Linked DNA regions of Homo sapiens: region 1 is linked to region 2. Evidence: fine-mapped expression QTL. A gene starts in region 2. The other region holds a variant in brackets. All regions are shown on one strand. Distances are from middle to middle. Region 1 overlaps ZAP70 (zeta chain of T cell receptor associated protein kinase 70). Region 2 holds the start of ZAP70 (zeta chain of T cell receptor associated protein kinase 70).

Region 1 (5,324 bases), 27 kb after region 2:
CGGCCCGCAACGTCCTGCTGGTTAACCGGCACTACGCCAAGATCAGCGACTTTGGCCTCTCCAAAGCACTGGGTGCCGACGACAGCTACTACACTGTAAGCCTCTGCCCCTGTGATGCCCGACTGGATGGGCTGGGTGGGTAGAGGGTCCCTGACCCCTGATCCAGCAGCATCTCCCCCTCCCCAGGCCCGCTCAGCAGGGAAGTGGCCGCTCAAGTGGTACGCACCCGAATGCATCAACTTCCGCAAGTTCTCCAGCCGCAGCGATGTCTGGAGCTATGGGGTCACCATGTGGGAGGCCTTGTCCTACGGCCAGAAGCCCTACAAGGCAGGCGCGGGCAGAGGCAGGTGGGCGGTGTGGTGGGGAGGGGGATGAGGAGGAGGACACTGGTCACTCACAGGTGTCTCTGCCCCGGCTTGAGCAGAAGATGAAAGGGCCGGAGGTCATGGCCTTCATCGAGCAGGGCAAGCGGATGGAGTGCCCACCAGAGTGTCCACCCGAACTGTACGCACTCATGAGTGACTGCTGGATCTACAAGTGAGTGCCAGTGGGGAGGGGACCCGGCTGGGCTGACCCCTGGAAAGTCCTGGTGCCCGATGAGTTGATGTCAATATAACTCTACCCAATGTCATCTCACCCAAAGCCCTTCACCCAGTTCATAGCCTTTGCAGCTGCCCCCTACCCCCACACCCAGCTCTCCAACACACCAGGGTTTGCTGTCCTGCTCCAGTGTGCCACACCCTGCCATCCCACCTGTGGGCCTGTGCCTCAGCATCTAAAACCTCAGCCATCACTCAACACATGGACCCTGCAACACGCAAACAGGTCCATACTCTGCTACTCAACCTATGACACTGACACTCAGGGCATGAGATGATTCTCCAGTACCCAACACTCCAGTCCCCACCAGCCAGCACACAGCACCCAACTACCAGACAGGTGAGCACTGAGGTACCAAATACTCATCTATTCCAGCCCCCACCTCTGCCTGGTTGAAGCCCAACCTTCAGACATCTCAACTCCTAACACCATCAGTATCCCAACTTCCCATCAGACAACAGGCAACACACCCCCAGACAAGCGGACGCCCTAGACTGCCCATGCAATGTGTGGACACTGTAACGCATGACCCCCCACCGGCCAGCACTTAGCATGCTGACACCCCAACACCCAAGCAGCCCAACAGATAGACACCCTCTCTGGCTGGCCCACCCTCCTGCGACATGTGTTAATTCCACCTCCATCAGGAAACACCCAGGGCACCACACCCCAGTACCCAAAGAGGCTAGCACCTAGCACCCCAACACAGTCCATGGATACCCCATGCACAGTACCGTTAATACTGCCGCTCCCCGCTGGCCAGACCCACTGCCATGCTCCAGGCTTCTGCTGATCACCAGCCTTGCACTCCCTCTCATCTAAGCCCCAGCACACTGATACCCTGGCCCCAGGTGCATGCACAGAGCATCAGCTTTCTATATCCCAGGTCCCCGTGGTCAATAGTTGCCACTCTGACACCAAGTCCACTCAGTCCCCTGAGTCCTCACTGGTCAACGCTCGGTAGAGGGGTCATCCCAGCACCCTGTGTGTGGGCAGCTCTGCCTCCTTAGGCTGTGTGGCATTGCCCAACGCTCTCACACCCCAGAGTCCTCTCCACCACCCAATGTCCCGCCACCCCAACAGCCCTGCTGACTTTCTGAGCCCCAAAAGTCTACCTCAGCCAAGCACAGTGCATGCCCACCCACTGGTGAAGCTGGGTCCTGGGGGCGTGGTCAGCAGCCTGGATGTACCCCACGCCCCACAGGTGGGAGGATCGCCCCGACTTCCTGACCGTGGAGCAGCGCATGCGAGCCTGTTACTACAGCCTGGCCAGCAAGGTGGAAGGGCCCCCAGGCAGCACACAGAAGGCTGAGGCTGCCTGTGCCTGAGCTCCCGCTGCCCAGGGGAGCCCTCCACGCCGGCTCTTCCCCACCCTCAGCCCCACCCCAGGTCCTGCAGTCTGGCTGAGCCCTGCTTGGTTGTCTCCACACACAGCTGGGCTGTGGTAGGGGGTGTCTCAGGCCACACCGGCCTTGCATTGCCTGCCTGGCCCCCTGTCCTCTCTGGCTGGGGAGCAGGGAGGTCCGGGAGGGTGCGGCTGTGCAGCCTGTCCTGGGCTGGTGGCTCCCGGAGGGCCCTGAGCTGAGGGCATTGCTTACACGGATGCCTTCCCCTGGGCCCTGACATTGGAGCCTGGGCATCCTCAGGTGGTCAGGCGTAGATCACCAGAATAAACCCAGCTTCCCTCTTGTCTGAGCGCCCTCATCTTTTCCGGGGTGAGGGTAGGTGTCAGGGGAGGGGTGGGTTATGAAAAGTGCATGGAGGTGACTGTTCTTGTGTGGACTGAGCCTGGAAGTGACCCCTGGGAAGATGGGGCTGGGTCCCACTCTCCACCCTAGGGACACCTTCATGTGAGTGAGCGGCTGGGGTGGAGTGGGGAACCTGAGGCCAGGCGGGTGTGGGCCCAAGGGCTGCGTGCCTGGCTGAGCCCAGCTCCCCTGTGTGGAGATGAGTGTGCCCCATGCCAGGTGCACGTTAGGATCACCTGGAGCTATTTTAACAAACGCTAACCCCCCCTCCCCCATCCAGCTGGGGTCTTCACCCCCCCAGGGGTGCCTTGCAAATCATGAGATACAATG[C/T]TTTTCATTGGTAGATGCACGTATTAGCTCCCGTATGAACCGTATTACTGAATTTGAATCTGAAAAATACCAAAATGCAAACATTGTTTTTAAATTAATTGTTTTAAAAGCTAATGAACGAATTAAGACAAATTGCATCAATTTAGTGGTTTCTTAAATCGTGGTTTGCAGGTAGTTCAGTTTTATTAAAATTCATTTGTGAGTCGCTGAACGACTTACATTATGTAAAATATATCAGACAGTAAATGAATTGTGGCTTTCATTGCCTTTTGGTCATCATTATGTTTCATGTCATCATTATTGATGAAAGTAATCTTATTTTATAAGAAGGAGGCATTAAAAAATGGGTGTCAAGTACATTGGGAACGCTAACAGACCCACCAGAGATGTCCGCTGAGGAACCAACGAAAGAGGGTGCAGTTCCGCAGAGCACTCTCCAGGTGGCGATGTTTCCAGAGGCCGAGGCCAGCTGGGGTCAATCCCGCCCTCACTGCCTGCTTCACCTCTGCACGTCTCCTTTTCCGCTAGCAGCACGACCTCAGGCCCTCACCTCCAGGTCCCCATTCCTGTCCCCTGTTGGGGTGATCAGACCCAACACCAGGTCGTGGGGGTGACAAAGTCCGGCAGAGTCAAAGGATTGAGAAAAAGACAGTTTGAGAGATAAAAGTGGGACACCAGGGGGTCATCGCCATCATGGAGGCTGCGAAGACCCTGAGCTCTGGGAGCCCACGGTATTTATTTGTAATCCAACAAAGAAACAGGTGGTGAGAATGTGGCTGTCAAAAGGACACGTTGCATTAAGCACATGATTTACAGCTGTGATGGTTTAGCTTTTCTACGGAACATGTTCTGCTACTTGAGATAATGGGAATACAATCGATCTAGGAGCCTAGGAAGGCTAGAAGCAAGGAGCCAGCAAGTCTAGACACGTTCCAGAGGCCATTATTTCAGTCATGCAAGCCCCATCTCAGTTTCCCTCCCAACACTCAGCTTTTTCCCAACAGTCCCCTGGAAGGTGCTTGCAGGATCTTTTCTCTTGGCGGCTCTGACCAAGCCCCTTCACCCTCCTCCAGGGTTTCCAGCGCCCACGCGGACTCCCCTCTGGGCCTCTGCATTCACCGCTGCCGCTGCCTGGAAAGCTCTCCCCGTCCCCACCGGTGATGTCCCCTAGGAAAGCTCCCCGTCCCCCGGGGTGATGTCCCCTAGGAAAGCTCCCCGTCCCCTCCCGGGTGATGTCCGCTAGGAAAGCTCCCCGTCCCCCCCAGGTGATGTCCCCGAGGAAAGCTCCCCGTTCCCTCCCGGGTGATGTCCGCTAGGAAAGCTCCCCGCCCAGGCTCCCTGGGTATGGAGGAGAGGGGCTGAGGGACGCAGTTTCTGATCACTGCTTGCACACCTCCTGTGATGGGCAGCTCATCCATTACCTCTCAACGCAGCCTGGGCTGGTAAGTGAGTTACAATTCTTAGAAAGGTTTTCCAGCTGCTGACACCAACCTTGACCCCCATTCCCTTTACCGTTCCAAGACCATACAGAGCACACCTCTTCTCCAAATATCTCACTCCTCCTCTATTGATCATGTGCCTATTCCAGACGTGTGTCATGAGGCACACAGGCTCAGGGTGATAACCACTGGCATGGTGGCAGCCCACTGGGCCCTGGAGGTCCAGAGAAGCTCCTGAGCCAGCTGAGAGGGGCCAATCTGGTGGGCTTCCTGTAGGAGGGAACGCCTTAGCTGAGTTCTGAAGGGTGAGTGACATTTGGTTGGGGACCGTAAAGAAAGTATCCCAGGGAGCAGGAATAGTGTGTAGTGGGAGAGAATGTCCTTCTGGAAACAAAGAGAGGTTTTGGCGGGGCTGGAAGGCTGAGTTTGGAAATGGGAAGAAAACGCAAGGCCTGGTGCGGTGATCAAGATGGGAGGTCAGTAACATCCTCTTTGTTTCATATTTCCTGACTCCTTGGCCAGGAAGCAACTAACATCTCCATCTACCAGGTCCACGGCTTCCTAGCATTGGGTTTTACCATTTTAAAAACATTTTTTAATTTTAGATGGGAAAAATATCTTATTGTGTAAATTAAGACAAATTAGCATTTCTCTTGTAAGTGGCGAAGTTGAGCAGTGTTTTCAGATGTGCGCCAGCTTGACAGATGCCACCTCTTGCTGTGAACGTCTCATGGCCTCATGCCCAGCACAGAGCTCGCACCTTCTCAGGCCCCATCCTCTGCTCTGAGCAAAAGGCCAAGGGCGTAGGCTGCCCTGTGGCCACATGGGTGAGGATATGGTGAATCAGTTTCCTGTTCTGCTTCCATTCACCTTTTGTCCCTTCAGGGTTTCAAATTTCTCTCTTCTCTGTTGGAGGCTGGGGTCCCATGTGCCTGTAGCTTTGTCCTTGTCTGAGGTATCTCTGAGCTCAAATTAGAGGGCTGTGAAGCCCCAGGAAGGTATTTGTGGGAGGCAATTCTGATGTGCTGGGTGCCTCGAACACACAACTTCCTGTTTAATTCTCAAAACATCTGCCTGGGGTGGGGACTCTTGAACCCATTTTACAGTTGAGGAAACCAAGGCTCTGAGGACTTGGTTTACAGACCCAACATGCCCACTATCCCAAGGCCAATATGTAAGAGGCAACTCTATTGGCAGCTTTTCTGGG
Region 2 (5,367 bases):
TGCAGTGAGCCGAGATAGCGCCACTGCAGTCCGGCCTGTGTGAAAGAGCGAGACTCCGTCTCAAAAAAAAAAAAAAAAAAAGTCACCATTTTTCTGTACACCCAGAGGGAATCCAGGAGGGGCCCTGGATGGACCTGTTTCCTTTGGGGCTCATTGCACTGGGGTGTATCTCCTCTCGGGCCTGCTGGAGCCTCCACCCTATCTCCCTGCTGCACGTCTCCCAGCAGTGGCTTGTGTTCTCTTAACTGTGCAGCCAGATTGGACCTGCTCAGCTCCAGGTGAAATGGACAGAAAGCCCATCCCTGCCCGGTCTGAGGATTGGGAAGCCTTCCTGGAGGAAAACACGCTTAATTGGAGACCTGAAAGAGGACTAGGAAATAGGCAGGTGAAGAGGTGTGGGCAAAGACCTGAGGATATGGGGGTGACTGATGAATTTCTTCGAGGCTCTTGGCATGAGTAGAGTGAATGTTTACCCCAACCCGATGAGGCAAAGGCACCGCAACTTTCCTAGCCCACATTTCCATCCGTTTGCCCTTTACTGTAAACATTCAAAAGATGCATCCACCTCCTTCCACTCTGGCAGAACAGAGGACCTTATCTGCATGCCAATCTCGGATTATCTGTAGCCCAATCTCAGAGCTGTCTGAGCACTGGGCTTTGTAGTTTCCAGACCAGCCTCTGGGACAGGAAGTGGGGGGCTCAAGGGTTGTAGGGCCAGTGCCTTGCAGAGGCTGGGAATCCCCTTCTCAGGACCTGAAGACCCTGGAAACTGGAAGCCCCCCACCCACACAGAGGCACCCTGTCCCATAGCTGGCTCAGCTTCCAGCTCCCTGGGGCGCTGGCCTCCTTCGGGGAGATATTTTACAACCAAAGTTTTCTTCTTTTATGTCCAGCAGCACGTGGGTGGGGTCAGGCTGCCTGGGCTGCAATCCCACCTGGCCACTTGGCATCTCTTAACCTCTCTGGGCTTTACTTACCTTATCTGGAAAATAGGTTGAATGGCTTATTAATTGTGATGTGCGTACAGCAATGTCTGGCACATAATCAGTGCGACTCTCATTATTGTAGTATGAATGTGATTTGATGCTGTAATTTCTCCTCTCTTCAGGGTGCCGGTGTCTTTTTCTCTCAATACTCCAAGAAATGAGCGTCCAGCATGGATGTGAAGGGATGCTTGCTGCACCTGGAGTTTCAAGATGCCGCTGGGGAAAAGGGAGGCTGCTAGCAAACACCATTTTGGAGGGGGCTGTATGAAGGAGAAAAGTAGCCTAGAGCCGGAACTCAGATTTTCTAAAGGGGATTCAGGCGGCCAGAGGATAGTAGAGGGCCAGAAAGGAGGTCCCCAAGGAGGCTTCGGGGTAGGGTGTGAGGGGATCCTCAGGCAGACTGGGGAGCTGAGCCTGTTGTAACCGAGCGAGTTACAGAGAAACGCCGCACTTTGAGACGAATTCAGGGGTCCTTTATTAGCTGGCGACTGAGAGACAGCTAGTGCTCAAAATTCTCTCAGCCCCAAAGAAGGGGCTTGATTTTCTTTTATACTTTGGTTTAGAAAGGACAGGTGGGGGTCTAAAACAATCTTACAGAAGTAAAGCAGGCAAAAAGTTAAAAGGATAAATGGTTACGGGAAAGCAAACAGTTCCAGGTGCAGGGGCTTAAAATCTATCACAAGGTGATAGACACGGGGCTTTGGGCGTTATCAACCGGACACAAACGCCGGGGCTCTGGGTGCTATTAACCGGGCGAATTCCTGGGAACTGCGGATATAGCTTGCCACAGTATCTTATCAGTTAATTGCATTCTTGGATGTGCTGGGAGTCAGCTTGCACAAATTAAGTCCTTGAGGAAGCGGGGTGGGTAAGGGGCTGCAAATGAAAGAGCCAAGATGGAGTCTGTCTGGCTCTCTTAGCTAAGGGAGAGTCAATTCAGGTTAAAACAAGGTAGGGTATCACAAGCCCACTTAACAAGGGCAGCAGGACCCCAAGAAGAAAAGCTTTAGGAGTCTCCACAGTGGGCCCAGGGCAGTTCCACACAGGTCTCTGAGGCCCCACAGACAGGAGAGCTGTGACGACTCCCTTAGTGCCCAAGAAAGCAAGGAGGTGGTGGGCAAGGGGCTCCCAGAGGCCTTGGGGCACTAGAGGGGAGATGGAGCCGAGGGAGTGGCTCTGCAGGCCCCTCTCTGAGAGAGTGCATGAGGTGTGGCCCCAGGCCCAAGGGTAGGGGGTGCACAGGGTGAGGGAAGGGAGGAGAGGAAGAGGAGGAGGAGGTGGTGGCCACAGCGGGATGGCACTCAGCCAGGTTCAGCTTCGTGGGAAAGGTCCCAGGTGGGCCGGGCTAGCACTGGGGATGCCCTGGCTCTGTGTCTCGGTTGGGTGGCTGACTCCTCCTGGAACGCATCCCTGACATCCTCCAGGCTGGCTTGGGGATACTCTGGGGACACACAGTGCCCAGGCTTCCGGCCTCCCAGCCCTGGCTCCCTGTGGACTCAGCTGCCCCCAACAAGCCTGCGAGCCACTGGAGAGCAAGGGCAGGCTGTCCTTGCCATCCAGATGCCTGGCACAGAAGGGGTTCTCACCTTCGGGGTATGGGCTGACTCAGTGGGTTTCTCCTCCCTCCAGCTCTAACCTGCCTGTGGAATAAACAAATCACTCCTCTGGGTTGTCTAGCTGGTGCAGGCCCCAGGGCGACGCCCCTTTGAGGGGAAAATGGGGGCATTCCAGTTTCCATGAGCCCTGGGACTCCCCTCCTTCCCACCACTGCTGCCTACCCTCCGGTTCCAGGTATGCAGGCTTCCTCCCTTCTGACGGTTCCTGCTGCTGGAGTCGTCCTTCCTGAAACCCTGCCTTTGCTTAGCCTCATTCCCATCTCTCAGTCCCATCCTGCAGCTGGGCAGGCAGTGCTGGGCCCCGGAAATGCCCTCTGCCTCCCTGGAGCACGTGGCCTGTGATTTTCCTTGAGCACAGCACTTTGTGACTTTGATGTAAACATCAAACACAGCCCCCTTTCCTGTCTTCGCATCCAGGAAATAGGTTAGTTTCAGACAAGCCTGCTTGCCGGAGCTCAGCAGACACCAGGCCTTCCGGGCAGGCCTGGCCCACCGTGGGCCTCAGAGCTGCTGCTGGGGCATTCAGGTAAGCGGCTGTCCTCGGGCCTTCTGCCTGTGTCCTGCCACCAGGGCCACCCCAGGGGGCTCTGGGAGACCTGGCAGAGGATGAACCCCCCCCATCCATGAGTGAGAAACCCTGGCGGGGTGTGACATCCTCCCCCGGGGTGTGTGCGGAGAGTGTGAGCGGCAGGGCCTCCCTCTCAGGCTGGGGGCTTGGGCTGCAGGGAAATCCAAACCGGCTTTGTAAGCCCCGATTCCTCACCCAGAACCGGCTCTCCATTGGCATTGGGACCAGAGACCCCGCAAGTGGCCTGTTTGCCTGGACATCCACCTGTACGTCCCCAGGTAAGTGGTGCCTGGGTGGAGTGGCACCTGGCCACCGTCTCCATGGTGGGCTGTGTCTGGAGGAGGAAGACAGAATATTAACTGGGAGTCAGGAGGTTGCTGGGAGGACCAGGAGAGCTGGAGGACTGGGCTGGGTGGTGACTGGCTGGAGATGGAGGCAGACGGGGCTTGTGGCCACGCTGAGGGAAGCAGCTCCCCCTCCAGAGGCTTGGCCGAGCGGGGCTGTTCAGGGGACACGGTGAGGCCTGCTCAGTCCCTGGGCTCCTGCTGGGCCCTGTTTGGCTGCATCCTTGGCTCTCGGAGGCAGAGAAACCTCCAGAGAAAGCGCATGTGCACTCTGTGAAGATGAGGGGGCTGCTCACCAGGGCCGTGAGCTCCATCAGCAGAATGCTGTGATTCCTGTGAGGAGTCCAGGGCAGGCTTGAGCCACTTGTAGGCGAGCTCAGGTTAGAGGAAGACCTGGAGAGAGAAAGAGCAAAACACCGAGTTCTCCTCAACTGCTGTGTGTTCTCGGCAAGTTGCTTGGCCTCTCTGACCTCAGTTTGTGCATCTGTTAAATGCACATGCAGATATGGGCACCTGGCAGGCGCCTGGTTCCTGACTGTTGGCGAGAGGCTGGGAAATGTGTCCCAGGTAGGAAGCATCCCCGACAGGAAGGAACAGGAGTTCATGAGGTGAGCAGCTCGAGATGATTCATTACTCTCGTCTTGGTTGGAACAGTAGGCAGACAGGAGGTGTTTAATAATGCCTTGCTGAGAGATCAGGGTCAGGGACTCCTAAGGTGCCACCTGTGAAGCTGCCTCCTGCTGAATCCAGAGCTTCCTTTTCCTCTTCACACCTGCCCTCCATCCTCAGCCCCACTGCCCTGGCAGTGTTGCGGGGGTGGTGTTGATGTGCACACTCTGGAGCCTGGGGGCCTGGCTTCACATTCTGGCTCTGCCACTCACCAGCTGTGTGACTGGACCAGTCACCGCATCTCTCTGTGCTTCCCTCCCAGGGCTCTCGGGAGGATAAAGAGAGTGACTGTATCCACACTGCCCGGCACATACAGGTGCTGCAGAAAGGTCTCACTAAAACCCTCATTATCCTCACTAGCTCTGGGTGGCCTCGGGCTCTGGACTCCACAGTTCCTGTATGCTCTCCGGGGCTGCAGCACCCAGACCACCCCGTGCTGACCACTCCCTGCCCCACCCCAAGGTACAGGGTTAAGGCAGCCATTCTCATCAGAGCCAATTTTACCTCCTCCCGTCTCCCTGGGACAGTTGATAGTGCCTGGAGACAGTTTGGGTTGTGACCCAGCGGGTGTTACTGGCATCCAGCATGTCCAGGACAGGAATCCTGTGAACAGCCTACAAGGCCCAGGACAGTCCCACCCTGTTCCATTGTCTCTATCAGCCCCTATCCTCCTGACTCACACCGCCTTTTCCCATCTCCCTTTTACAGTCACAGAGCCTGAGGCCCAGAGAGGGACCGCTGCTTGCTGAGGTCACACAGGCAGTGGAGGCCGGAGTTGGGGGCCTCACTGGAGGGGCGGTGGAAGGGCATTGTTCAATCAACAGACACTTGGAGAGTGTGCTGGGTTGGGGAATCTGACCCTGACCCCGCACCAGCCCAGCTCTCCAGGGTCTCCTAATAGACATTTGCTGGAGTGGTTAGTGCTGGCTGCTGCATTGGACAGACCTGAGTTCAAATCCTGGTGGCCCCTTGCAGGCTGCATGTTCTGAGAGTGACATTGACCTCTCCGAGCCTCAGTTTCTTTAGCTGAGGAGTGGGATAACAGTTCCCACCAAATGTAGTTGTGGTGAGAATTAGAATAAATGGCTAATGCTCGCAAAGGGTAGTGCAGTCCCCAGCACAGAGGCTGTTGTGATTGTCCTTACACACTTGACAAATATTTGTGGGGAGGAAGCAGGAGCTTC

What was found. PIP is the estimated chance that this variant, and not a neighbour inherited with it, causes the effect.
Region 1: its variant is fine-mapped to the expression of ZAP70 in unexposed skin (GTEx, PIP above 0.99).

What each region holds. Positions count from the first base shown.
Region 1 is chr2:97,737,571-97,742,894 of GRCh38, forward strand. It overlaps ZAP70 (zeta chain of T cell receptor associated protein kinase 70), which reads left to right. Exons shown (of 14, transcript NM_001079.4): 11 at 1-95; 12 at 187-327; 13 at 425-537; 14 at 1,805-2,290. The coding sequence ends at 1,928. Among named protein-coding and RNA genes, the nearest start is that of ZAP70, 27 kb to the left of the region's middle. RefSeq lists an enhancer at 1,990-2,489. The variant C/T (reference allele first, on the strand shown) is at 2,679.
Region 2 is chr2:97,710,547-97,715,913 of GRCh38, forward strand. It overlaps ZAP70 (zeta chain of T cell receptor associated protein kinase 70), which reads left to right and starts at 3,030. Exons shown (of 14, transcript NM_001079.4): 1 at 3,030-3,128; 2 at 3,370-3,448. RefSeq lists a silencer at 675-864 and enhancers at 2,838-3,811, 5,043-5,367.